Linked DNA regions of Homo sapiens. The protein of the gene in region 1 purifies or fractionates together with the protein of each later gene. This does not show direct contact. Each region holds a gene or a part of one and is shown in the gene's direction. Other genes may lie near its edges. The genes, in order: UNC5CL, IGF1R, NUMB and POM121.

The links.
Region 2: the proteins of UNC5CL (region 1) and IGF1R purify together in Homo sapiens (affinity purification with mass spectrometry; 2 studies listed by BioGRID and IntAct, with this or other methods). This does not show direct contact.
Region 3: the proteins of UNC5CL (region 1) and NUMB purify together in Homo sapiens (affinity purification with mass spectrometry; 2 studies listed by BioGRID and IntAct, with this or other methods). This does not show direct contact.
Region 4: the proteins of UNC5CL (region 1) and POM121 purify together in Homo sapiens (affinity purification with mass spectrometry; 2 studies listed by BioGRID and IntAct, with this or other methods). This does not show direct contact.

The regions. Positions count from the first base shown.
Region 1 is NC_000006.12:41,029,202-41,036,232, reverse strand, and holds part of UNC5CL (UNC5C-like protein), read left to right. Parts: intron 1-1,097; 5' UTR 1,098-1,158; coding exon 1,159-1,543; intron 1,544-2,051; coding exon 2,052-2,352; intron 2,353-3,086; coding exon 3,087-3,349; intron 3,350-4,095; coding exon 4,096-4,197; intron 4,198-4,484; coding exon 4,485-4,552; intron 4,553-5,477; coding exon 5,478-5,578; intron 5,579-5,731; coding exon 5,732-5,845; intron 5,846-7,031.
Region 2 is NC_000015.10:98,959,517-98,965,039, forward strand, and holds the end of IGF1R (insulin-like growth factor 1 receptor isoform 1 precursor), read left to right. Parts: 3' UTR 1-5,014; downstream 5,015-5,523. UniProt on the Homo sapiens protein: Receptor tyrosine kinase which mediates actions of insulin-like growth factor 1 (IGF1). Binds IGF1 with high affinity and IGF2 and insulin (INS) with a lower affinity. The activated IGF1R is involved in cell growth and survival control.
Region 3 is NC_000014.9:73,287,535-73,294,565, reverse strand, and holds part of NUMB (protein numb homolog), read left to right. Parts: intron 1-1,691; coding exon 1,692-1,832; intron 1,833-7,031. UniProt on the Homo sapiens protein: Regulates clathrin-mediated receptor endocytosis. Plays a role in the process of neurogenesis.
Region 4 is NC_000007.14:72,928,068-72,935,098, forward strand, and holds part of POM121 (nuclear envelope pore membrane protein POM 121), read left to right. Parts: intron 1-317; coding exon 318-398; intron 399-1,872; coding exon 1,873-2,044; intron 2,045-7,031. UniProt on the Homo sapiens protein: Essential component of the nuclear pore complex (NPC). The repeat-containing domain may be involved in anchoring components of the pore complex to the pore membrane. When overexpressed in cells induces the formation of cytoplasmic annulate lamellae (AL).

The DNA.
Region 1 (7,031 bases):
ATCGATTACCTGTTGAAATAACATTTTGAATATATTGGGTTAAATAAAATGTATTAATTTCTCCTGTTCTTTTTAATGTGGCCATCAGGAAATTTAAAATTACATGTGTAGTTCACATTACATTTTTATTGTACACCACTGCTCCAGACCTTTCTCTATACCTTTACATTTCCATATATGCACCCATAAATATGTATCTATTTATATGCAGTTTTGTTTTTCACATTAATGAGCTCAGAATATTTTATCTCTCTGCGACTTGCTTTTTCCACTTATAGATTTTTTTGTATCAGCACTTGTAGATCAAGGTAGATATTTGGACAGATGAGGAAACTGAGGTACATTAAGCAGTATTGAGGCAGGAGGTGGGATTTGATTCCAGGCCAGATAGAAAACTGGCTGAAACAGGGAAAAGGCACCAAAAGCACCTCTCCATAAGACATGCCCACCAGTGCCATGACAGTTTACCACTGCCATGGCGATGCCTGGAAGTTACTGCCCCTTTCCATGGCAGTGACCCGAAGCTACCACTCCTTTTTCTAGAAATTTCTGAATAACCCACCCCTTACTGCATGTAATTAAAAGTGGACATAAATATGATGGCAGAAATGCCCCAGAGCTGCTACCCTGGGCACACTGCCTAGGGTTAGCTCTGCTCTGTAAGGAGCATACCTCTGCTGCTGCTATACTCTGCCACTTTAGTGAAAGTTGCTGTCTGACACCACTGGCTCACCCTTGAATTCTTGCCTAGGTGAAGCCACAAACCCTCCCAAACTAAGCCCCAATTTTGGGGCTCTCCTGCCTTACATCAATATGATAAGTTTACCCAGCCACAGTGACCAAGGTGACATTTGAACTCATGTTCTCTAACTGTAAACCCAAGCTCACTCTGCTTCAGAACAGTTTACCTTGATGTATTAGGTCACGGGGAGCCAGGGTAGGTTCTCGAGTAAGAGAGACAGGTTAAAAGAATTGGTGTGACTAAAGTGTGCAGTGTGCGCTGGAATGAAGACAACTTGCAGCTATGTGTAAGCCAAGCCTTGACCTCCACAACTTAAAAGGGCTTACCCTGACACTGACCCCTTCTTCCCCACCAGGCCTTTGGCTTTGGCTGGCACAGGGGTGAAGGAGAGCCAGCGGCATTGAGTAACCAGGCGAATGTGCCCCCAGGAGAGTTCATTCCAACCCTCCCAGTTCCTACTGCTGGTGGGGGTCCCAGTGGCAAGTGTCCTCCTTCTGGCCCAATGCCTTCGATGGCACTGCCCTAGAAGGCTGCTGGGGGCCTGCTGGACACTGAATGGTCAAGAGGAACCAGTGTCCCAGCCTACCCCCCAACTAGAAAATGAGGTCTCAAGGCAGCACCTGCCAGCCACACTGCCAGAGATGGTTGCCTTCTACCAGGAGCTACACACACCCACTCAAGGCCAGACCATGGTCCGCCAGTTGATGCACAAACTGTTGGTGTTTTCGGCTCGAGAGGTGGATCACCGCGGCGGTTGCCTGATGCTCCAGGATACAGGCATCTCCTTGCTCATCCCACCAGGTAACAGCTCCTGGCTCTCATCTCCGCATACAGTTGGTCAGACTGTACATTAGGTCACCACATCTGAGGGAGCAATGTTCATAGACACCTTTTACTTCTGATAATTGTTTATATTTTGAGTATAGCTTTATTGACTTCAGGGATGGACATATTACATATCTTTTGGGACAACTTCCTGGCAGGTGGAAGTAAAGTGCCTTGTTCTAATGAATCAGTATGCTGTGACAATTCTCTAGTAAAGGGAGGGAAGAGCACCATTTGCAAATTCACACAAGGCACACTATGGGCTAGCAGCAGCCTGGGTGGAAAGGGAAGTGTCTTGCTTAGGGTTACACTACAAGTCAGCTCCACAGTCGTCTTACTCTTGTTCATACCACTTCCCTGTGTGCCCTGCTGGGGGTCTCTCCTGGGCTCCTGCCCCACCTCCTTTCTCTCTGGCCTGGCCTCTTTCAGGGGCAGGGGTGTGCCTGCCTACCAGGCCCATCTCAGCTCTCCCTCTCCCTGCCAGGTGCTGTGGCTGTGGGCCGCCAGGAGCGGGTGTCTTTGATCCTGGTGTGGGACCTGTCGGACGCCCCATCGCTGTCCCAAGCCCAGGGGCTGGTAAGCCCTGTGGTGGCATGTGGCCCCCATGGGGCCTCCTTCCTGAAGCCTTGCACTCTCACGTTCAAACACTGTGCCGAGCAGCCCAGCCATGCTCGCACCTACAGCAGCAACACTACCCTGCTGGATGCCAAGGTATGGAGGCCCCTGGGGCGGCCGGGGGCCCACGCCTCCCGGGATGAGTGTCGCATCCACCTCTCCCACTTCAGGTAGGCACATGCCATTGGCCTGTCTTCCCACACCCATCTCTCTGAGGACTGTCTTTCCTGCCCACTTTCTCTGTCTGCCTTATCTTCATCTCTCTGTATAGAAGATGGTCTGCAAATCCTTTATCCCCTGGTGTCTCTTTCTGGCCCCTCTGTCCTAATGTTTGTAGCAGTTTTTCTCACATCAATCATGTCCATGACTGCAAATCCCATTGCTGTCTCTCTGTCTGTCTGGAAGTGTCTGACTCAGCACCATCTCTCCATCTAAGAGGGACCTGTCTTTCCCATCTCTCTCTGTCTTTCAAATTATCTCTCTCTACACTGTGCCCCTTTCAGGACTGTCCCCAGGCTTAGCACCAGTTCTCTAAGACTCCATTCCATCTCTGTCCTTCTTCTCTTTGTCTTTCTAGAGTCCTAGGTCCTCTGCCTCCCAGCCTCCTTGCCACCCATTGACAGGAATAGGGCCATGTGCGGGTGCCCTCCCAAGCATGGTCACCCTGAGCCCACTTTCCCTCTCTCCCCTGCCAGCTCTCCTCCCCATTCAGTCACCAGTCACTGTGACATGCTCACTTTTCATCCCCAACCTACCAGTTCCTCCCTAAGTGCTCCCCTCGAGTGTTCTCTGAACCTCCTTGAAGGCCCCACAGAGGCCCCTCAGGTGGCAGGAGGCTGGTGGCAGTGTGTTGGTGTCTTAGCCTTCCCTGCACATTAGTGCCTGCCACTGGCTCCCTCTGCAGCCTCTACACCTGTGTGCTGGAGGCACCTGTGGGGCGCGAAGCCCGCAAATGGCTGCAGCTGGCCGTATTCTGCTCACCGCTGGTGCCAGGACAGTCCCATCTGCAACTGCGTATCTACTTCCTCAACAACACGCCCTGCGCCCTGCAGTGGGCACTGACCAACGAGCAGCCCCATGGTGGGCGCCTGCGTGGGCCCTGCCAGCTCTTCGACTTCAATGGGGCTAGGGGCGACCAGTGCCTGAAGCTCACGTACATCTCAGAGGGTGAGGGAGGCAGTGGCCTGTGGGATAGGATGATCGGGAGCCCCACAGGAATGAAGGGTTCTGGGCCTCCCCTGGACATCTGGAGATCTGGGGATCCCAAGTCTCTCTCTCTTTTTTTTTCCCGAGATGGAGTTTCGCTCTGTTGCCCAGGCCGGAGTGCAGTGGCTTGATCTTGGCTCACAGCAACCTCCGCCTCCTGGGTTCAAGTTATTCTCCTGCCTCAGTCTCCTGAGTAGCTGCAATTACAGGTGCCCACCACCATGCCTGGCTAATTTTTTTGTATTTTTGGTAGAGACGGGGTTTCATCATGTTGTCCAGGCTGGTCTCGAACCCCTGACCTCAAGTAATCTACCCGTCTCGGCCTCTGAAAGTGTTGGGATTATAGGTGTGAGCCACCACACCAGGCCCCAAGTCTGTTTGTGACCTCTGGGCCAGCAGTAGCCTCATGGAGCCCCCAGGGCTTTGACCACTCTGCTGTCTACTGAGCCCTTGCCACTCACTCCTTGGACAGGGTGATGCCAGGTGGCAGGTGGGAAGGAGAGGGGTTATACCCCACAGAAGCAGGAAAGGATGGAAGGCTTTTATAGTGCAAGGGCCCTCTTGGGGTCCCAGCCCAGGCTCTGGGGATTCCCATTCCCTTGAGACCCTCCTGCCTTTGTTCTGTCCTCATGCCTCCCCACAGCCCCCTTCAATACTTGTTTAAGGCCCCACTCTCTGAGGCCCTCTGCTGTCTGCCTACTCACCAGGTTGGGAGAATGTGGATGACAGCAGTTGCCAGCTGGTTCCCCATCTCCACATCTGGCATGGAAAGTGCCCCTTCCGCTCCTTCTGCTTCCGGAGAAAAGCAGGTAGTCCGGGAGCCCTGTGTGTACCTCCTCCCCTCTCTTTTCCCATCCTGTCTCCTCTCCTTCCCTCCCAGTAACCCTGGAGCTCTGCAGACCCCCATGCAGCCATGCACACAGACCTTCCCTGAAAGGCCAGGAGCCACACAGATCTTTGCAGAGAGAAAAATGGAGTGTTGGACCCCAGCTTCCTCAGATTTCCCAAGTCTTACTATAGAGTCCCTTACCTTCTCCTGCTCTTACCCCAGGCCGTTTCCTCACTCACTGGCCACGCTGTCACCTTCTCTTTATAGCCGATGAGAATGAGGACTGTTCAGCACTAACCAATGAGATCATTGTCACCATGCACACCTTCCAGGATGTGAGTTGGAGCTGAGGGGCAGAGGAAGGGCAGGGCCTGGGGGAAATCCTAGGCAAAGTGGGCACAGGGTCTGGTGCCCAGTAACTATGGTCTTAATCACATAGGTAAAGATGGCACTTTCCATAGAGCCCCCATACCAGCTCTTTGAGGGGCTGAGATCATCTGGGCTCCAAGTTACCCTCATCCCTGACTCTCCTTGTCTATCGGTGGATGAATCCAGCAGGAAGCTAAAAGAACCAAACCCTAGTTTAACCCCTTCTCCCAACTCAGAGAACTGGGGCATCAAGTTGATATGGTTTCTTTCTAGGCTGATTGTCTACATTTGAGAGATGATGTTTGGTATCTTCAGTGTGGGATTTGAGAGATGATGTTTTGTATTTTCAGTGTGGGAAGTGACCAGGAAGAGGGTCTTGAGTAGGCAGGCTGGGAGTTAGGTATCTCTCCTCTCCTGCTGCACCAAGGGAAGATGCGAAGAAATCGGAGTTGAGAGTCTTTGGGGAACCATAGTGGCACCTTAGTGGAGGGCAGGCAGATACCCTGTTGTCACTTGGAGAAGAGGAAGGGAAGGTTGGAATGGAGGAAGGTACACATATGGCTGAGATCAGTGTCTCTATGGTTGGATGACCTCCCACTGCTCCACGGCCCCACCCAGGACTTCCCCTGGTGGCTCAGGCTGCACTCTGGTCTTCATGTCCCAGTTCCCAAAGAGCTCAGGGGCAAACATAAGGCTGAAGGTGCGGTTCTGAAGTCACAGGGAGACAGTGGGTAGAGGGTGCTGGGTGGAGCAGGGTTGTATCTCCTGGTAAGGTGGCTCTGAGTGACAGACTGAAGGAGAGACATGAGGAATGGAGGTAGGACTCCAGCTTCTTACTCAGGGGGATGGCTTGTGACCCCTAAGTGTGTTCCCTGCCCTGTGTTGACTCAGGGCTTGGAGACCAAGTATATGGAAATCCTCAGATTCCAGGCATCAGAGGAGGAATCCTGGGCAGCGCCACCACCTGTTTCCCAGCCGCCCCCATGCAATAGGTGAGACGGGGGTTGCTTGGGCTGCTGCCTGGGGGATGTTGGGTTCCTACCCTGGCACCCACAGGGTGACTACAGCATTTAGGGTGCATATGGGAGAACCAGAGTGGGTCTGTTTGTCCCTTTCTTCCAAGAACACCCTTTTCCCTGCCTAAGGCTGCCCCCAGAGCTCTTTGAGCAGCTGCGGATGTTATTGGAGCCAAACAGCATCACCGGCAATGACTGGCGCAGACTGGCCTCCCACCTGGGGCTTTGCGGCATGAAGATCCGGTAGGAAGAGGGGTGAGGTCTGTGGATGGTAGAGGAGGGTGGGCTGGAATGGGGTTCCTCAGGACACTCTGGAGACTGGATCACAGGCAAGGGAGTGACTTAAAAGTCAGAGAATGGCTACTGTCCACCCTATTTCCCATAAAAGGGCAGCTCTATTAATCACTGTATCATCAGTACCTAGAATGATGCCTGGTGCATAGTAGGTGCTCAATTAACATTTAACAGTGAATCCATTAACATGGAAGTTATTTGGTACATGTTGAGTGCTTGCCATGCTATGCCCTGAGGAGGAGCAAGACAGATTATAGGATAATGTGTGTAAAGCATGTAGCTGGGTGCCTGACACTTGTTAATTCAATAAATGTTATCAATAATGGTGACAGTGCAGTCATGATCCCTGTCAAGGAACTCAGAAAGCAGGAGAATACTGAGCTAAGCTCCAGAAACTACACTATGAGTGCAGCGGTCAGGGAAGACTTTATCCTGGTGATGGGGCTAGAGCTGGACCCTGAAAACAGGGTGGATTTTTATTTATTATTATTATCATTATTTGAGACGGAGTCTTGCTCTGTCGCCCAGGCTGGAGTGCAATGGCGCAATCTTGGCTCACTGCAACCTCCATCTCCCGGGTTCAAGTAATTCTCCTGCCTCAGCCTCCCGAGTAGCTGGGATTACAGGCACACGCCACCATGTCCAGCTAATTTTTTATTTTTAGTACAGACGGGGTTTCACCAGGTTGGCCAGGCTGGTCTGCAAACTACAGGGTGGATTTTTAAATCATTCATTTAAACATTTATCAAGTACCTATTATGCCCTGGAAACTGTGCTAAGCACTATGATACAAGATGAATGAGGCATGGTCCCGGCGCCTAGGAGCGCACACACTAGTAAAGGGTTCAGAGAGCTTGAAAAATAAAGGCAAGTGTTCCTTGTGCCTTCCTGTAAGAATCCAGTATTGTATAACACATTGAAGAGAGACAGAAAACAGCTGAAGCAAGAATAATAATGAACTGCGGGCGTTATGACCAGAAGTCTGAACTGAGGGATGCAGAATGTTCTCTTCCACCTGGGAGGGGTGAACTAGAAAGGGCTTCAGGGAGGAAGTGATGGGGAAGAGATCAGCCATTTTGTTTTGGGGAGTAGCAGAGGTGGCTGTGGGTGTAGTGTGTGCAAGGCGAGAAAGAGA
Region 2 (5,523 bases), on another chromosome or scaffold:
GGCAGCACAGACGCCACGGTGGCCCAAGAGCCCCTTTGCTTCTTGCTGGGGGACCAGGGCTGTGGTGCTGGCCCACTTTCCCTCGGCCAGGAATCCAGGTCCTTGGGGCCCAGGGGTCTTGTCTTGTTTCATTTTTAGCACTTCTCACCAGAGAGATGACAGCACAAGAGTTGCTTCTGGGATAGAAATGTTTAGGAGTAAGAACAAAGCTGGGATACGGTGATTGCTAGTTGTGACTGAAGATTCAACACAGAAAAGAAAGTTTATACGGCTTTTTTGCTGGTCAGCAGTTTGTCCCACTGCTTTCTCTAGTCTCTATCCCATAGCGTGTTCCCTTTAAAAAAAAAAAAAAGGTATTATATGTAGGAGTTTTCTTTTAATTTATTTTGTGATAAATTACCAGTTTCAATCACTGTAGAAAAGCCCCATTATGAATTTAAATTTCAAGGAAAGGGTGTGTGTGTGTGTATGTGTGGGGTGTGTGTGTGTGAGAGTGATGGGACAGTTCTTGATTTTTTGGGTTTTTTTTCCCCCAAACATTTATCTACCTCACTCTTATTTTTTATATGTGTATATAGACAAAAGAATACATCTCACCTTTCTCAGCACCTGACAATAGGCCGTTGATACTGGTAACCTCATCCACGCCACAGGCGCCACACCCAGGTGATGCAGGGGGAAGCCAGGCTGTATTCCGGGGTCAAAGCAACACTAACTCACCTCTCTGCTCATTTCAGACAGCTTGCCTTTTTCTGAGATGTCCTGTTTTGTGTTGCTTTTTTTGTTTTGTTTTCTATCTTGGTTTCCACCAAGGTGTTAGATTTCTCCTCCTCCTAGCCAGGTGGCCCTGTGAGGCCAACGAGGGCACCAGAGCACACCTGGGGGAGCCACCAGGCTGTCCCTGGCTGGTTGTCTTTGGAACAAACTGCTTCTGTGCAGATGGAATGACCAACACATTTCGTCCTTAAGAGAGCAGTGGTTCCTCAGGTTCTGAGGAGAGGAAGGTGTCCAGGCAGCACCATCTCTGTGCGAATCCCCAGGGTAAAGGCGTGGGGCATTGGGTTTGCTCCCCTTGCTGCTGCTCCATCCCTGCAGGAGGCTCGCGCTGAGGCAGGACCGTGCGGCCATGGCTGCTGCATTCATTGAGCACAAAGGTGCAGCTGCAGCAGCAGCTGGAGAGCAAGAGTCACCCAGCCTGTGCGCCAGAATGCAGAGGCTCCTGACCTCACAGCCAGTCCCTGATAGAACACACGCAGGAGCAGAGTCCCCTCCCCCTCCAGGCTGCCCTCTCAACTTCTCCCTCACCTCCTTCCCTAGGGGTAGACAGAGATGTACCAAACCTTCCGGCTGGAAAGCCCAGTGGCCGGCGCCGAGGCTCGTGGCGTCACGCCCCCCCCGCCAGGGCTGTACCTCCGTCTCCCTGGTCCTGCTGCTCACAGGACAGACGGCTCGCTCCCCTCTTCCAGCAGCTGCTCTTACAGGCACTGATGATTTCGCTGGGAAGTGTGGCGGGCAGCTTTGCCTAAGCGTGGATGGCTCCTCGGCAATTCCAGCCTAAGTGAAGGCGCTCAGGAGCCTCCTGCTGGAACGCGACCCATCTCTCCCAGGACCCCGGGGATCTTAAGGTCATTGAGAAATACTGTTGGATCAGGGTTTTGTTCTTCCACACTGTAGGTGACCCCTTGGAATAACGGCCTCTCCTCTCGTGCACATACCTACCGGTTTCCACAACTGGATTTCTACAGATCATTCAGCTGGTTATAAGGGTTTTGTTTAAACTGTCCGAGTTACTGATGTCATTTTGTTTTTGTTTTATGTAGGTAGCTTTTAAGTAGAAAACACTAACAGTGTAGTGCCCATCATAGCAAATGCTTCAGAAACACCTCAATAAAAGAGAAAACTTGGCTTGTGTGATGGTGCAGTCACTTTACTGGACCAACCCACCCACCTTGACTATACCAAGGCATCATCTATCCACAGTTCTAGCCTAACTTCATGCTGATTTCTCTGCCTCTTGATTTTTCTCTGTGTGTTCCAAATAATCTTAAGCTGAGTTGTGGCATTTTCCATGCAACCTCCTTCTGCCAGCAGCTCACACTGCTTGAAGTCATATGAACCACTGAGGCACATCATGGAATTGATGTGAGCATTAAGACGTTCTCCCACACAGCCCTTCCCTGAGGCAGCAGGAGCTGGTGTGTACTGGAGACACTGTTGAACTTGATCAAGACCCAGACCACCCCAGGTCTCCTTCGTGGGATGTCATGACGTTTGACATACCTTTGGAACGAGCCTCCTCCTTGGAAGATGGAAGACCGTGTTCGTGGCCGACCTGGCCTCTCCTGGCCTGTTTCTTAAGATGCGGAGTCACATTTCAATGGTACGAAAAGTGGCTTCGTAAAATAGAAGAGCAGTCACTGTGGAACTACCAAATGGCGAGATGCTCGGTGCACATTGGGGTGCTTTGGGATAAAAGATTTATGAGCCAACTATTCTCTGGCACCAGATTCTAGGCCAGTTTGTTCCACTGAAGCTTTTCCCACAGCAGTCCACCTCTGCAGGCTGGCAGCCGAATGGCTTGCCAGTGGCTCTGTGGCAAGATCACACTGAGATCGATGGGTGAGAAGGCTAGGATGCTTGTCTAGTGTTCTTAGCTGTCACGTTGGCTCCTTCCAGGGTGGCCAGACGGTGTTGGCCACTCCCTTCTAAAACACAGGCGCCCTCCTGGTGACAGTGACCCGCCGTGGTATGCCTTGGCCCATTCCAGCAGTCCCAGTTATGCATTTCAAGTTTGGGGTTTGTTCTTTTCGTTAATGTTCCTCTGTGTTGTCAGCTGTCTTCATTTCCTGGGCTAAGCAGCATTGGGAGATGTGGACCAGAGATCCACTCCTTAAGAACCAGTGGCGAAAGACACTTTCTTTCTTCACTCTGAAGTAGCTGGTGGTACAAATGAGAACTTCAAGAGAGGATGTTATTTAGACTGAACCTCTGTTGCCAGAGATGCTGAAGATACAGACCTTGGACAGGTCAGAGGGTTTCATTTTTGGCCTTCATCTTAGATGACTGGTTGCGTCATTTGGAGAAGTGAGTGCTCCTTGATGGTGGAATGACCGGGTGGTGGGTACAGAACCATTGTCACAGGGATCCTGGCACAGAGAAGAGTTACGAGCAGCAGGGTGCAGGGCTTGGAAGGAATGTGGGCAAGGTTTTGAACTTGATTGTTCTTGAAGCTATCAGACCACATCGAGGCTCAGCAGTCATCCGTGGGCATTTGGTTTCAACAAAGAAACCTAACATCCTACTCTGGAAACTGATCTCGGAGTTAAGGCGAATTGTTCAAGAACACAAACTACATCGCACTCGTCAGTTGTCAGTTCTGGGGCATGACTTTAGCGTTTTGTTTCTGCGAGAACATAACGATCACTCATTTTTATGTCCCACGTGTGTGTGTCCGCATCTTTCTGGTCAACATTGTTTTAACTAGTCACTCATTAGCGTTTTCAATAGGGCTCTTAAGTCCAGTAGATTACGGGTAGTCAGTTGACGAAGATCTGGTTTACAAGAACTAATTAAATGTTTCATTGCATTTTTGTAAGAACAGAATAATTTTATAAAATGTTTGTAGTTTATAATTGCCGAAAATAATTTAAAGACACTTTTTTTTTCTCTGTGTGTGCAAATGTGTGTTTGTGATCCATTTTTTTTTTTTTTTTTTAGGACACCTGTTTACTAGCTAGCTTTACAATATGCCAAAAAAGGATTTCTCCCTGACCCCATCCGTGGTTCACCCTCTTTTCCCCCCATGCTTTTTGCCCTAGTTTATAACAAAGGAATGATGATGATTTAAAAAGTAGTTCTGTATCTTCAGTATCTTGGTCTTCCAGAACCCTCTGGTTGGGAAGGGGATCATTTTTTACTGGTCATTTCCCTTTGGAGTGTAGCTACTTTAACAGATGGAAAGAACCTCATTGGCCATGGAAACAGCCGAGGTGTTGGAGCCCAGCAGTGCATGGCACCGTTCGGCATCTGGCTTGATTGGTCTGGCTGCCGTCATTGTCAGCACAGTGCCATGGACATGGGAAGACTTGACTGCACAGCCAATGGTTTTCATGATGATTACAGCATACACAGTGATCACATAAACGATGACAGCTATGGGGCACACAGGCCATTTGCTTACATGCCTCGTATCATGACTGATTACTGCTTTGTTAGAACACAGAAGAGACCCTATTTTATTTAAGGCAGAACCCCGAAGATACGTATTTCCAATACAGAAAAGAATTTTTAATAAAAACTATAACATACACAAAAATTGGTTTTAAAGTTGACTCCACTTCCTCTAACTCCAGTGGATTGTTGGCCATGTCTCCCCAACTCCACAATATCTCTATCATGGGAAACACCTGGGGTTTTTGCGCTACATAGGAGAAAGATCTGGAAACTATTTGGGTTTTGTTTTCAACTTTTCATTTGGATGTTTGGCGTTGCACACACACATCCACCGGTGGAAGAGACGCCCGGTGAAAACACCTGTCTGCTTTCTAAGCCAGTGAGGTTGAGGTGAGAGGTTTGCCAGAGTTTGTCTACCTCTGGGTATCCCTTTGTCTGGGATAAAAAAAATCAAACCAGAAGGCGGGATGGAATGGATGCACCGCAAATAATGCATTTTCTGAGTTTTCTTGTTAAAAAAAAATTTTTTTAAGTAAGAAAAAAAAAGGTAATAACATGGCCAATTTGTTACATAAAATGACTTTCTGTGTATAAATTATTCCTAAAAAATCCTGTTTATATAAAAAATCAGTAGATGAAAAAAATTTCAAAATGTTTTTGTATATTCTGTTGTAAGAATTTATTCCTGTTATTGCGATATACTCTGGATTCTTTACATAATGGAAAAAAGAAACTGTCTATTTTGAATGGCTGAAGCTAAGGCAACGTTAGTTTCTCTTACTCTGCTTTTTTCTAGTAAAGTACTACATGGTTTAAGTTAAATAAAATAATTCTGTATGCATTTCTGTCTCTGGTTTGGTTTTGTCCCTCCTGGAAGCATCACTACACTTTGGTGGCAGGGAAGCTGAGCTATGTGGGGCACGTGTGTTCACGCATGTTGCCTGGAAGCGTTCTCCAGAAAAGCATTGCCTCTTCTCTGACAGCTGAGCTTTCTCAGCATGCAGATTGCCAGTAAAGACGACAGGGAAGCTATCTGTTTCTCCCTCCATTAAATCATCTGGAAAGAAATTTGAATACATAAATTACGAAACTCTGTACTGCAGTTCCGACTGATTTGTAGACTTTTTTCCTATACCTTCCACTAACAACAGTCAGGCCAAGGCAAGTCTGATCTGCATGACCCCAAGGCAGAGGACTTCAGTTCTTCACATTTCCCATGTGCTTTTTGGTCTTTCACAGCTGACATGCCCACCTCGGGGGGATGCTGGTGAGAACCCAGTGGGCCTCACGCAGAATGTGGGTCACTGGAGGAGCTCCAAAGTCCTAGTTACTTTCTAGCTGCTGCTCAGT
Region 3 (7,031 bases), on another chromosome or scaffold:
AGCAGCCTGGGCGACAGAGCAAGACTATCTCAAAAAAAGAAAGTAAAAAGAGAATCCTGGAAATGAGTAAGCCAAAAAGGAGTAGTCCCAAATTCTGTTCATAAATTCTGCCCAAATCTCTGACCCTTTTAGCCATGTAGATTCAAGGCAGACTCCAAATAGCCCAACTAAGGATATAAAAACTGATATTTGATTACCTACGTATGGTGACATGCACCTGTAGTCCTAGCTCCTCGGGAGGCTGAGGCGGGAGGATGCTTGAGCCCTGGAGTTGAGGTTACAGTGAGCAGTGATTGCGCCACTGCACTCCAGCCTGGATGACGGAGCAAGACAGTCTCAAAAAAAGAACAAAAACGCCCTGATGTCTGAGGTGCTGTTCAAAAGATAAGAGTTTTCCATTTGAGTATAATCAAATTAGCTACCTGATAAAACCAAAAATATGACACTTCCAAGGAATGTAACGGAATCCATTCTTTCCACATACAACATTCACAATGACTACAATGCAGTTACTCAGCATACAACAAAACAGACAAGTCTGACTTATTCTCATCAAAATAACAATCAATAAAGACCTAACTTCAAGATGACTCAGATGTTGGAATTAGCAGACAGATTTTAAATGCCCGCCTTCACTATTTGACCAAGAAATAAATGTCTCTTGTATTTGAGTCATTGTATTGTTTTGTGTTTATAGCATCACCACAACTAGTACAGAAAATGGTACACTGAAGTAGACTGCTACCTTAACAGAAATGAAAACAGTGTATAGAAGGCATTATAACTATACTCAGTGACAGAAAGGAAATATGTTCATGTTGAATGAAGAGATAGAAATCTTGGCAGAGAATAGAAACTATGAAAAAGAAACAAATGGCTGGGCACGGTGGCTCGTGCCTGTAATCCCAGCACTTTGGGAGGCCAAGGCAGGTGGATCATGAGGTCAGGAGATTGAGACCGTCCTGGCTAACACAGTGAAACCTGTCTCTACTAAAAATACAAAAAAATTAGCCGGGCGTGGTGGCACACGCCTGTAGTCCCAGCTGCTTGGGAGGCTGAGGCAGGAGAATTGCTTGAACCCGGGAGGCAGAGGTTGCAGTGAGCCAAGATCGCGCCACTGCACTCCAGCCTGGGTGACAGAGTGAGACTGTCCAAAAAAAAAAAAAAAAAAAGAAAAAGAAACGAGTGGAAATTCCACACCTGAAAAATACAGTATCTGAAGTAACTTCACTGGATCGGGTATATATAATGTAAAAAAGCAAGGTGCAGAACTGTGTGTATGTGTGTGTAGTGTTCATTGTGTAACGAAGTTAGCATAAACATGACTATTATATGTATTTGCTTATATTTGGGAATAAACCCAAAGGATTTTTTTTTTATCCAAAGGATTAAAGATACTGATTTACATATATTGTTGAATGTGGAATCTACCATGAAAGAGATGTAAAACTAGAATCAACAAGCATATGCTTTAGAACATGTAGTTGAGAGAGGTATCTGGGCAAAGTGCCTCTTGGGATGTCTGCTGAGTCCAATTCTCAGTATTTAAACTGCTGGACACAGATCTAGGTATTCCATAGCCTAGTTGTATCAGATGTATGGATTGTGCATCATGAAATGAACATCCTGTGTTCTGAGAAGCTCAGATAACCTCATAAGTCTTCTCTTTCTTTGTGTGTCGTATTTTCTAGGACCTCATAGTTGACCAGACGATAGAGAAAGTTTCTTTCTGTGCCCCAGACAGGAACTTTGATAGAGCCTTTTCTTACATATGCCGTGATGGCACCACTCGTCGCTGGATCTGTCACTGCTTCATGGCTGTCAAGGACACAGTGAGTCCAGCAAATATGTATTTCATGATGAGTATTCTCAGTTAGCTGGGCTCTTTCTGGGTTTGCTCAGCCAAGCGGTTTCTACTACATTTTTAACAAGTACTTGGAAGTGCCTAAACTAGCCTACTTTCAGCTCCTTTTATTCAAATAGTTCACACTCTTGATGTAACCCCAGGAGTTGCAACTCACTGAACAAAATGATTGGCTGAAACCAAAGATCATTAAAGGAAGGTAAAAATGGTCTGGTGATAGTGGTTGCTAAACTTTATTTGAAACTTTTAATTATTGGAAGTATTTTCAGGGTTCTTAAATGTATTTGTTGGCTAACATATATGAGTATGGTATTAAAAATGTATTTGCATAGAGACTACTACAAATGAAAGAAGTTGGCTGGGCCTGATGGCTCACCCCTATAATCCCAGCACTTTGGCCAGGGCAGGAAGATCACTTGAGACCACAAGTTGGAAACTAACCTGGGTTACATGGCAAGACCTCATCTTTACAAAGTTAAAGAAAAAATTAGCCAGGCATGGTGGCACATGCATGTAGTCCTAGCTACATTCTACATGCCTTGGGAGGCTGAGGCGAGCAGAACACTTGAGCGTAGGTGTTGGAGGCTACAGTGAGTCATCGTGCCATTACACTCCAGCCTGGGTGACAGAGTGAGACCTTGTCTCCAAAAACAGAACAAAACAAAAAAACAAAACTGAGTTGGAGTATACTTTCAACTATTATAAAAACAGAAATACCGGCCAGGCACGGTGGTTCACACCTGTAATCCCAGCACTTTAGGAGGCCGAGGCAGGCGGATCACGAGGTCAGGAGTTCAAGACCAGCCTGGCCAATATGGTGAAACCCCGTCTCTACTAAAAATACAAAAAAATTAGCTGGGCGTGGTGGTGCATGCCTGTAGTCCCAGCTACTCGGGAGGCTGAGGCAGAAGAATCGCTTGAACCCAGGAGGTAGAGGTTGCAGTGAGCTGAGATTTGTGCCACTGACTCCATCCTGGGTGACAGAGCAAGACTCTGGCCAAAAAAAAAAGAAAAAAGAAATACTGGCCGGGCATGGTGGCTCACACCTGTAATCCCAGCACTTTGGGAGGCCGAGGTAGGCAGATCACCTGAGGTCAAGAGTTCAAGACCAGTCTGGCCAACATGGTGAAACCCTGTCTCTACTAAAAATGCAAAAGTTAGCCAGGTGTGGTGGCGCATGCCTGTGATCCCAGCTACTTGGGAGACTGACTCAGGAGAATCGCTTGAACTCGGAGGCAGAGGTTGCAGTGAGCCAAGATTGCACCACTGCACTCCAGCCTGGACGACAGTAAGACTCCGTCTCAAAAATAAAACAAAAATAGGCCAGGCACGGTGGCTCACGCCTGTAATCCTAGCACTTTGGGAGGTTGAGGTGGGCAGATCACTTGAGGTCAGGAGTTGGAGACCAGCCTGGCCAACATGATGAAACCCTGTCTCTACTAAAAATACAAAAATTAGCCGGCTGTGGTGGCGGGTGCTTGTAATCCCAGTTATTCAGGAGGCTGAGGCACGAGAATCGCTTGAACCCAGGAGGCAGAGGTTGCAGTGAGTCAAGATTGCACCACTGCACTGCAGCCTAGGTGACAAAGCAAGACTCCATCTCAAAAAAAAAAAACAAAAAACAAAAACTAAACAGAAATACTAAGTTACGGTAGAATGAACAACGCTAGAAATTGTTGCATGATAGAAGTTTTGTTTTAAAATAGAGAATAATTTCATTCTTTATGTAAATTACCCAGCATTTTAACATGAAAGACAAGTCTCTTTTAAATGACAATGATTTTACTATAAGTTGAGCATTTCAAATCCGAAAATCTGAAATGCTCCAAAATTCTAAACTTTTTGAGCACCGACATGACACTCAACAGAAATACTCATTGGAGCATTTTGGATTTTGGCTTTTCGGATTTGGGATGTCAGCTTGTTAAGTATAATGCAAATATTCCAAAATCTGAAAAAAATCTAAAATCAGAAACACTTCTGGTCCCAAGCATTTCAGAAAAGAGATACTCAAACTGTATGTACAGCAAGTGTCGAGACAGAATAGGCAGTATAGCCATTCGTGAAGGTTACAGGTCAGTAAAGCTCTTGCCAACGTTTAATCTGGAAGATAAGTAGTGGCCATGGTCTAAAAATTGACCAAAATTGTTTAAAGATCTTTGAGACATTGGTGTAAACAAATGCTAAGAGCTCAGGCTCTGAGTCAGATATGGGTTTCAGTTCTGATTCTGGTTCTTACTAGCTGTGGGATTTGGGGCAAGTTACTTAACATTCTCTGTCTTGGTATACACTTCTATAAATGGAGAAAGTGGTTGTGAATACTAAATTGGATAAAGATTATAAGCACACTTAGCATAGGTTCTGGGCCACATTACTCCAAAAATTTTAGCGAATATTGTGTAAGCTGTCCTTCATTGGTTTGACACAGGTGCTTTGAAATGAGTTGAAGTAACAAAACTGTGCTTTTGTCTTCTGTTTCTCAGACCCTAAGTAAACCACAAACTGGGTATATTTTGCTATCACTACACTTTAAAAATCTGGAGTTCAAGAGTTTCCAGATAATAACTTAAAAACCATTTTGTTGTCAAATAGTGGCCCGGCAGCCTGTTTGAATCTCCTAGGCCAATAGTTCTACTGTATCAAAATCACCTGGAGGACTTGTTTTAAAACATAGATTGCTGGGCCCCATCTCCAGCGTTTTTCATTCAGTGAGTTTGGGGTTGGTACTTAAGAATTTGCACTTAAATGTTCCCAGATGATGCTGTTGGTTGGGGATGAGGTCACTCTTCAACAACTTCTGCCCTAGGCCTAGGAGAAAGAATAAGCAAGCTTCCTTGACCTGTAGCTCTGTCCTTATAATAGACCTGCGTTCAAATGCAAACACATTCTAAGAATCTTTCAGTACTCCTGTTTCATGCTTTAACATCTGGCCTAATGTCATCCTACTGGGAAGTTAGATGGAAACTCATGTGGATTCATAGAGTAATTCTATCAGTCTTTAAATAAGTAGTCAAAAGTTTTTTTAAAAAGTTTAAAAATTTTTAAAAAGTAGTCAAAGGTAGTAAAATCTTAGGGACATAAAGCATTTTAAACCTTACCTGTCCTTATGATAACTAATACTGTCATGCAAAATCCAGTGAGACGACTTGTTCAGAGCCGTGTGTAGGAGCAGCTGCCTACGTGATGTGATTTTGAGAACACCACAAAAGACTTCCTGTTCCCAAATATCTCTTCTCACTGTGAATGATGCCAACAATTATTGTACCATCTCTAGCTTTTTTATTCCACAATTAGCAAAATGGTCTAAAATACAGATAACCCTGCTAAAAATCATCCATTGAATTTATTAAATTGACTCTGGGTAATCCAGTGTATCTATATAAAGCAGTGTTTTGTTTATATACGTCCTCCACTCCTCCCATACACAAACCAGTTTTATCTGCTTAATTCTTTTATAAGTAGACAGTGTGGATGAAAACATGCTTTCACTTTTGCCTGTGTTTGGTTGGGAGGTAGAGTTGGGAATTAGAGCTAGAGGAAGATAGGAAGGGTATGGGGGAAAACCTAAAAGCACGGAGGGCCATAAATGAGGAGGGTTGCTTAGAGGGGGGATTCAGAAAGGGGAGACAGCAAAGCTTTTGTCTCATTGTTAGTTTTGTTTGTTTGTTTGTTTTTTGAGACAGGGTCTCATTATGTCACCCAGGCTGGAGTGCAGTGGCACAATTAGAGCTTACTGTAGGCTTAAGTGATCCTCCCACCTCCCAAGTAGGACCACAGACACACACCACCACCACACTCGACTAATTTTTTCTTTTTCTTTTTTTTTAATTATTATTTTTTTTGAGACGGAGTTTTGCTCTTGTTGCCCAGGCTGGAGTGCAATGGCACGATCGTGGCTTACTGCAACCTCCACCTCCTGGGTTCAAGTGATTCTCCTGCCTCAGCCTCCCGAGTAGCTGGGATTACAGGCATGCGCCATCATGCCTGGCTAATTTTGTATTTTTAGTAGAGACAGGGTTTCTCCATGTTGGTCAGGCTGGTCTTGAACTCCTGACCTCAGGTGATCCGCCCACCTCAGCCTCCCAAAGTGCTGGGATTATAGGCATGAGCCACTGTGCCCGGCCTTTATTTTGATTTTTATTTATTTTTTGAGACGGAGTTTTGCTCTTGTTGCCCAGGCTGGAGTGCAATGGCGCCATCTCAGCTCACAGCAACCTCTACTTCCCGACTTCAAGCAATTCTCCTGTCTCAGCCTCTCAAGTAGCTGGGATTACAGGCACCCGCCACCACATCCGGCTAATTTTTGTATTTTTAGTAGAGACGGGGTTTCGCCACGTTGGGCAGGCTGGTCTCGAGCTCCTGACCTCATGATCCACCCATCTCAGCCTCCCAAAGTGCTGGGATTACAGGTGTGAGCCATCGCACCTGGCCTAATTTTTTTTATTATTTTGGTAGAGACAGAGTCTCACTGTGTTATCCAGGCTGGTCTCAAACTCCTGGGCTCAAGCAATTTGCCCATCTCAGCCTCCCAAAGTGCTGGGATTACAGATGTGAGCCACCATGCCCAGCCTCATTCCTTTTTAATCACTGGAATTATATTTGTTTATCAGAAGTTTTAAGTTTGCACCTTTTTTTCCTAGACATATTAACAGTGCATTAAGCTCCTGAAATTTGCCTTGCCTTTCCAGTAGTTTCTTAGAAGTGGCTGGTAAATATTCCCACTGCTTCCCCAAAGGGCAACTAGAAGCTTGCATGTCAAGGCTTGAAACCTTGCATAGAGTCTTCTAAGCTGTTGGCCAGGGCTGACATGACAGAGCCTAAGTGATAAAGAGTTCTCCATGGCTGCTTACAAAAGCACAGGTTGCTGGTTATCACTTTACCCCAAGGCTTGTAACAGTGAATTGAACCATCATAAGCACTACCTTAGAAAATTTATTCATTTAAATTAATATGGCATACTAATCTATTAAAACAATTTTAAGCTGGAATTTGCAACATCTTGCTTTCATAAAAACAGACATTTGGGCCGAGTGTGGTGGCTCATGCCTGTAATCCCAGCACTTTGGGAGGCTGAATTGGGTAGACCACTTGAGGCCAGGAGTTGGAGACCAGCCTGCCCAACATAGCAAAACCCCATCTCTACTAAAAATACAAAAATTAGCCAGGT
Region 4 (7,031 bases), on another chromosome or scaffold:
TGGTGGTGCATACCTGTAGTCCCAGCTACTCTGGAGGCTGAGGCAGGAGAATCGCTTGAACCCAGGAGGCAGAGGTTTGTTGCAGTGAGCCAAGATCGTGCTATTGCACTCCAGCCTGGGCAACAAGAGCGAAACTCTGTCTGAAAAAAAAAAAATTTACCTTTCAGAAGCTTAGGGATTTTAAACAACCATTTTCTGGTCTATCATGGAATCTGTGCTCCATAGAGATAGTATAAGGTCCCAGAAATATGAGAATACACTTTAAAGGGACAAAAAAAGTCATGTCATTTCATTGAGACTTTTTTGATTTGTCGCAGGCGCCATGATAGCAGTGGCAGTGGACATTCAGCATTTGAGCCCCTGGTGGCCAATGGAGTCCCCGCTTCTTTTGTGCCTAAGTAAGTGGGAGTCCATCCGGATGAAATACCAACTGTTTGGAAAAAGGCCTGATCAGAGCTGTTGCCCTATAGATTTTCCTCTTTGTTTTTTGCATTGCTTAATTGGTTCAGGTTCACGTCTTTGAAATTAGGAACGTTTTGAGTAACTTGCCACAGTTAACTGCCTTCTGTCTAATTCCTTTTAATGTTCTTGCATTAATATGGATGAAATATGCTGAGACTTAAGAGGTTTTATAAATATATTTAATAACCAAGCACATACACAGAAGGATTGCAAAGTTTGTGCAGTGGATAAAACAGTATGAAACCTAAATGTTAAATTTCTACATGTCAGTTTAAAAACAAATTGGAGGAAGAATTGGGTGGAAAGGAAAGTGGCTCAAAAGTATGTGTGGAAAGACTTAGGATACCTTAGGTACCTCATCTGAGTCAGCAGTGTGATGTGGCCGCCAGGAAAGCTAAAGTGCTCCTGGTCTGTGCTGTTAGAAGAAAGACTAGAATGAGGCAGGTGGATGGTATTCCTGCCTTCCGTAGTTCTGCTCACTGTCCGTGGAGCACTGTGGTCAGATCAGTGTACTGCACTGCGAGGGAGGATGTACACAAACGGAAATTCATTCCCAGTGAAGCAATGAAGATGTTAAGGAGATTTGCAACAGCCCAAAGGGGTGGTGGTGGATGTTGGGGTTTTGGAGGTATGGAAGTATTAGCCCAGAGGAGAAAAGTCTCAGGGGGAATAAAGAAATAAGTGAGGGAAGGACAATGGTCTCCAAAAAACCAAAGGACTGTCCCTTGAAAGAAGCAAAATAACTTGCTCTGTTTGACTTCAAATAGGATCCGTGGGTGAAAGAGGAAATACACTGTAATCCACTGTAAGAATAAACTGGTTCATGGTTGACGTGGGTCACTCTAGGAGAGAGTTGTCTATATTGTAACAGGTTGGATGACTGTCCTACAGAAAAGATGCGTAGGAGATTTCTGTTTCCATTGGAGGTTTAGTAAAATGATGGGTTCCTCTTAACTCTGATTTTTTTTTAATAGCTTTGTTGAGATATAATTGACATAAAATAGACCGTACTTGTTTAAAGCATGTGACATTTTGACACACATACACCTGTGGAACCATCCCACCACTAAGATAATGAACATCCTTCACCTCCAAAAGTTCCCACATGCCTGTAATCCCTCTCTTTACTTCCACCCCTGTTCCCAGGCATCCACTGATCTGTCTTCTGTCACTGTAGATAGGTATGCATTTTCCAGAATATTCTATAAATGGAAATCATACATTTAAGTTTTAAATATTTGGCTTTTCTTACTGACTTTGTCAGATAGATTTGGCCAGATTGTTAGCAGTAAAAATTAAAAGCATTATTCTCTTCCCTTCATGTTATTAAGAAAGATGTCATGACCGTGGATGAAATCGTAAAAGAATTTTGCCTTCAATAAAGCATCTAACTGTCTTCTCTTTTATTAGGCCTGGGTCTCTGAAGAGAGGCCTCAATTCTCAGAGCTCAGATGACCACTTGAATAAGAGATCCCGAAGCTCTTCCATGAGCTCCTTGACAGGCGCTTACGCAAGTGGCATCCCTAGCTCCAGCCGCAATGCCATTACCAGTTCCTACAGCTCCACTCGAGGCATCTCACAGGTACAAGTACAGCTCTTTTAATGTGGGGGACATGAATTCCCAGCGTTCATTCATTGACTAGGGCCAGACATGGTAGCTTAGCCATGTAATCCCAGCACTTTGGAAGGCCAAAGCGGGAGGATTGCTTGAGCCCAGGAGTTCAAAACCAGCCTGGGCAATATAGTGAAACCTTGTCTGTACAAAAGAATTTTTAAAGAAAATTTTTTAAATAAAGTAATTGATTAGCAAAGGTTTACTGATCACCTTCTATCTGTCAGACATTAGAATTGTCTTTAAGCTAATAGAAAATACAGATCATTGAGTGATCAATATAGGCCAGCGGAATGGAGTAGAAAGCCCAGAATGTACAGCAGTGCATGTGTGCGAGCTGATTCGAGACAGAGCTGTGTTGTAGATAAACGGACAGAGGGTGATTCGAAAGGTAGACTGAGTCCAGCTTGTATTGGGTCGTAAAAGAGATTTATCTTATAGGCGTTTAGAATTGAAAGCGGGGTTTTTAAACAAGTGGTCATGATTTTTTGGAAAAGGGATTATCGCATAGTATAGGGAACAGGGCAGGCTTTGCTGCTGGACAGACTTAGATTCAAATCTTGGCTCTGAGGCTGGGCGGGATGGCTCATGCCTGTAATCCCATCACTTTGGGAGGTCAAGGTGGGAGAACCTCTTGAGTCCAGGAGTTCAAGACTAGCCTGTGCAACAGAGCAAGACTGTGTCTCAAAGAAAAGGAAAAAAATGCTTGGCTCTGACATCTAGTAGCTATAAGGTCTTGGGCAGACAATCACATAACATCTCTTTTTCTTATCTCTGAAGTGCTGTTGCAGTGATTGAGGGTAATATTTAAAAAGCACCTATTACAGTGGCTGTCAGTAAGTGGGTACCCAGTATACAGCAGCCAGACAAAAAGATGTAAAGCATGTATGGAGAAATGTTTTTGAGAGGAGGAAGATTTTGAGACGAGTTCATCAGCCCAGAAGGCTCTGACAGTCATATAAATGAACATTAATGACCGTAATATCATTATCCCTCTTAATAATTTAAGAGGGATAATTAATATTATTTAATATCTAGTTATTATTTTTGATATGCAAACTTTTCCAGCTTTGGACTATGGGTTCCAAACTGGCTCCTGTATCCTTTATTTTGATCCCAGCAGTCTTCGACAGATAGCTTCATTGCTTTTTGCCCACCTTCCCAAAGTCCATTTTTAGCCTATACCGAAGTTGGGTGTTTCTTCAGAAAGCTTTGGTTTCTTCCAGTTAGAACTGTAGAGACTACAGTCTAAGTTTTAGGAGAGATAAGATAGACAGATCCTCTAGAAAGGGGAATATAAATAATTCATAATATTCCAAATTCAAATTTATGATAGTAGGATTTTTTATGTAATTTATTTGATTTTATATTTTTATGTATTACACCAAAAATGTCGGTTTATAATTACTTTGATCCTAGTAACACGCAATTTCTTTTTTTTTTTTTTTGCCGGAGTCTTACTCTTGTCGCCCAGGCTGGAGCACAGTGGTGCGACCTTGACTCACTGCAATCTCCGCTTCCTGAGTTCAAGCGATTCTCCTGCCTCAGCCTCCCAAGTAGTTGAGACTATAGGTGCCCGCCACCATGCCCAGCTAATTTTTGTATTTTTAGTAGAGACGAGATTTCACCATGTTGGCCAGGCTGGCATCGAACTCGTGACCTCAGGTGATCCACCCACCTTGGCCTCCCAAAGTGCTGGGATTACAGGCATGAGCCACCACGCCTGGCCCATGCAATTTCAAAATAGCGGTATCAGTGTCATTGTTAACACTGTCATTATTAAGACGGCTGAAGTCAGTTTAAGAATTGTGATTCATTTGTCTTTATATCCCTGTGTGAATGCTACGGACATGTAATCAATATATCGTGTTTTAAAGTAATGTTAATTGTCCTTTGGGTACACCAACTTTATATACAGTGAGGTTCGTTTGTTCAGTATGTTTGAAAGTTACAGGGATTTCTGTGTTTTCCTTTTTGAAATAGTTCTGTTTTAAATTATGTAAAATCTTTGAAACAATAAGTTGTTTCAAAAAAAATACACTAAAACAAGATACACTCAAAAATTCAGTTTCCATCCCTTTCCACTCTACATTTTTCCTTCCTCTCCATTTTTATTTTTTGATTATCCTTTATTGTTTTTTAAACGGTATGCATATCAGTGTATCTGAAAACCGCCACCTTCTAACATTTAAGGTAGTAGACAGTATATACAGATTTGAACCTTGCTTTTTCACATAATAGATAGTTGAGGTCATTCCATAGCAGTACACAGAAACTCATCTTTGGTCTTAAAACTGCATAGGTACTTTAGTCCTCTGTTGACAAATGTTGGGTTGTTTCAGTCTTCTGCTATCACAAATAATGCTGCAAAGAATACATTTGTTCATATGTCATTTCATCCTTGGCAATTTTGCCTCTGGAAAGTTCCTAGAAGTCAGATTCCCAGGTCAAAGGTTAAATGCGCATGTAATTTTGCTGGATATTGTTAAATCCCCCTACAGAGCATGCACCACTCAGCATTCCCCTCAGCGTTGTATGAGAGGGACCATTTCTCCATGGCCTCACCAGCAGATTTGGTTATTGTAGCTCTGGGCTTTTACCAATTTCACAGGTTAAAAATAGTATCTAAGACAGGCGTGGCAGCTCATGCCTGTAATCCCAGCACTTTGAGAGGCCGAGGAAGGCAGATCACTGGAGGTCAGGAGTTCGAGATCATCCTAGCCAACATGGTGAAATCCTGTCTCTACTAAAAACATAAAAATTAGCTGGGCATGGTGGCACATGCCTGTAATCCCAGCTACTCAGGAGGCTGAGGAAGGAGAATATCAGGAACCTGGGAGGCAGGGGTTGCAGTGAGCAGAGATAGCGCCACTCCACTCCAGCCTGGGCGACAGAGTGAGACTCTGTCTCAAAAAAAAAAAAAAAGCCAGCCGAGCTTGGTGGCTTACACCTGTAATCCCAGCACTTTGGGAGGCTGAGGCAGGTGGATCACCTGAAATCCGGAGTTTGAGACCAGCCTGGCCAACGTGGCAAAAACCGGTTGCTACTAAAAATACAAAAAATTTAGCCAGGCGTGGTCGTGTGTGCCTGTAATCCCAGTTACTTGGGAGGCTGAGGCAGGAGAACTGCTTGACCCTGAAAGGCAGAGGTCAAGTGAGCCGAGCTCACGCCACTGCCCTCCAGCCTGGACGACAGAGTGAGATTCTGTCTCAAAGAAAAAAAGGTATCTAATTTTTGTCTCTTATGAGTAGTTTGATCATCTGTTCATATGTTGAATGATTATTTTCAGTTCTGTTTCCATGAGTCTTAGTTCATATCCTTTACCCATTTTTCTGAAGGGCTACCAGCCAAATCTCATGTTCAAGAGTTTTTCCTATAGTAGAGAAACCTATTCCAAATGAAGCAAAGTTTTGAACGTAAAATAGAAACCATAGAAGTGCAGTGTTAGAAGAAACAGGCTCCTCACGCGTTGCTGGTGGGAGTGTCAGTTGGTACAGCTCTCTAGAGGGCTTTGTGACAGGAATTGTCCACATAAGAGATACATGCACCCTTTGATCAAGCAGCTTTACCTTTAGGAAGTTATCCTACACACATACTGGGAAATGGATACAAGGATTTAATGTAACATTGTTTTAATAATAGCAGCTTGGAAACAATGTACATGTTATCTTTTCAGGGAGCTGACTGAATAACTTACAGTATTGGTGTAAGTTGGAATATACTATGTAACTATGAAAAAGAATAAGGCAACTGAAGAAGTACTCATGAGAATGATCTCAAAAAGCAATTACATAAAAACAAGGCTCAGAACTGTATAGTATCCTCTATTATTCGGGCTTTTAAAAATCTTTTAATATGCATAAAATAATTCTTACAGGATATATTAAAAACTGGCAATCATTACTGAGATAAAAAGGAAATTTACTTTTTACTGTACAGTCTTTTTTTTTTTCTTTCTTTTGAGACAGAGTCTCGCACTGTCGCCCGGGCTGGAGTGCAGTGCTGTGACCTTGGCTCACTGCAACCTCCACCTCCTGGGTTCAAGCAATTCCCCAGTCTCAGCCTCCCAAGTAGCTGGGATTACAGGCACCCACCACCATGCCCGGCTAATTTTTGTATTTTTAGTAGAGATGGGTTTTCACCATGTTGGCTAGGATGGTCTCGAACTCGTGACCTCAGGTGATCCGTCCGCCTTGGCCTCCCGAAGTGCTGGGATTACAGGCGTGAGCCACCACACCTGGCCCCAAGTTGTTGTCTTTTTCTTAGAGATTTGAATACGCTCTTTATATGTTCTAGATACAAGCTGTCTGTCATGTATGTGTTGCAACAAAAAAGTGTCCTGCTCTTGCCATTCTACTTCCTTGTGGTTAGCATACTTTGTGTAGTATTCAGGAAATCTTTGCCTACCTAACCTAAGGTCATGATAATTTTCTTCTGTGCTACCTTCTAGAAGCTTTATTATTTTATTATTACTTTTATATGTAAATCCATAAACCACCTGAAATTAATTTTTGTATATGGTGTGAGGTTGGAATCAAAATTAGTTTTTTTTGTGTTTGGTGGTGTTGGTGGTTTTTGTTGTTGTTGTTGTTGTTTTTTACTGTAGAAATACCCATTTCTCTTAGCAACATTTATTGAAAGGACCATCCTTATTTCTCTGCAGCACCGTCTTTGTCTAATTTAAGTGTCTGTATATATGTGGGTCCATTTCTAGACTCTGTTTTGTTCCATTGGTCTATTTTTCTACCTACCCTTGTGCCAGTCTTTGTTTTACCCCTAGCCTTATACTTTAAGTCTTGATAGAGTCAGTCATCCCACTTTCTCATTTCTCTTCAGGACTGTCTTGTATCTTGGCCTTTTGCATTTTCATATAATTTTTAGATCAACTTGTCAATTTCCACAAAAAAAAAAAAAAGTTCTGAGATACTGATTGGGATTGCCTTTCATCTACTGATTA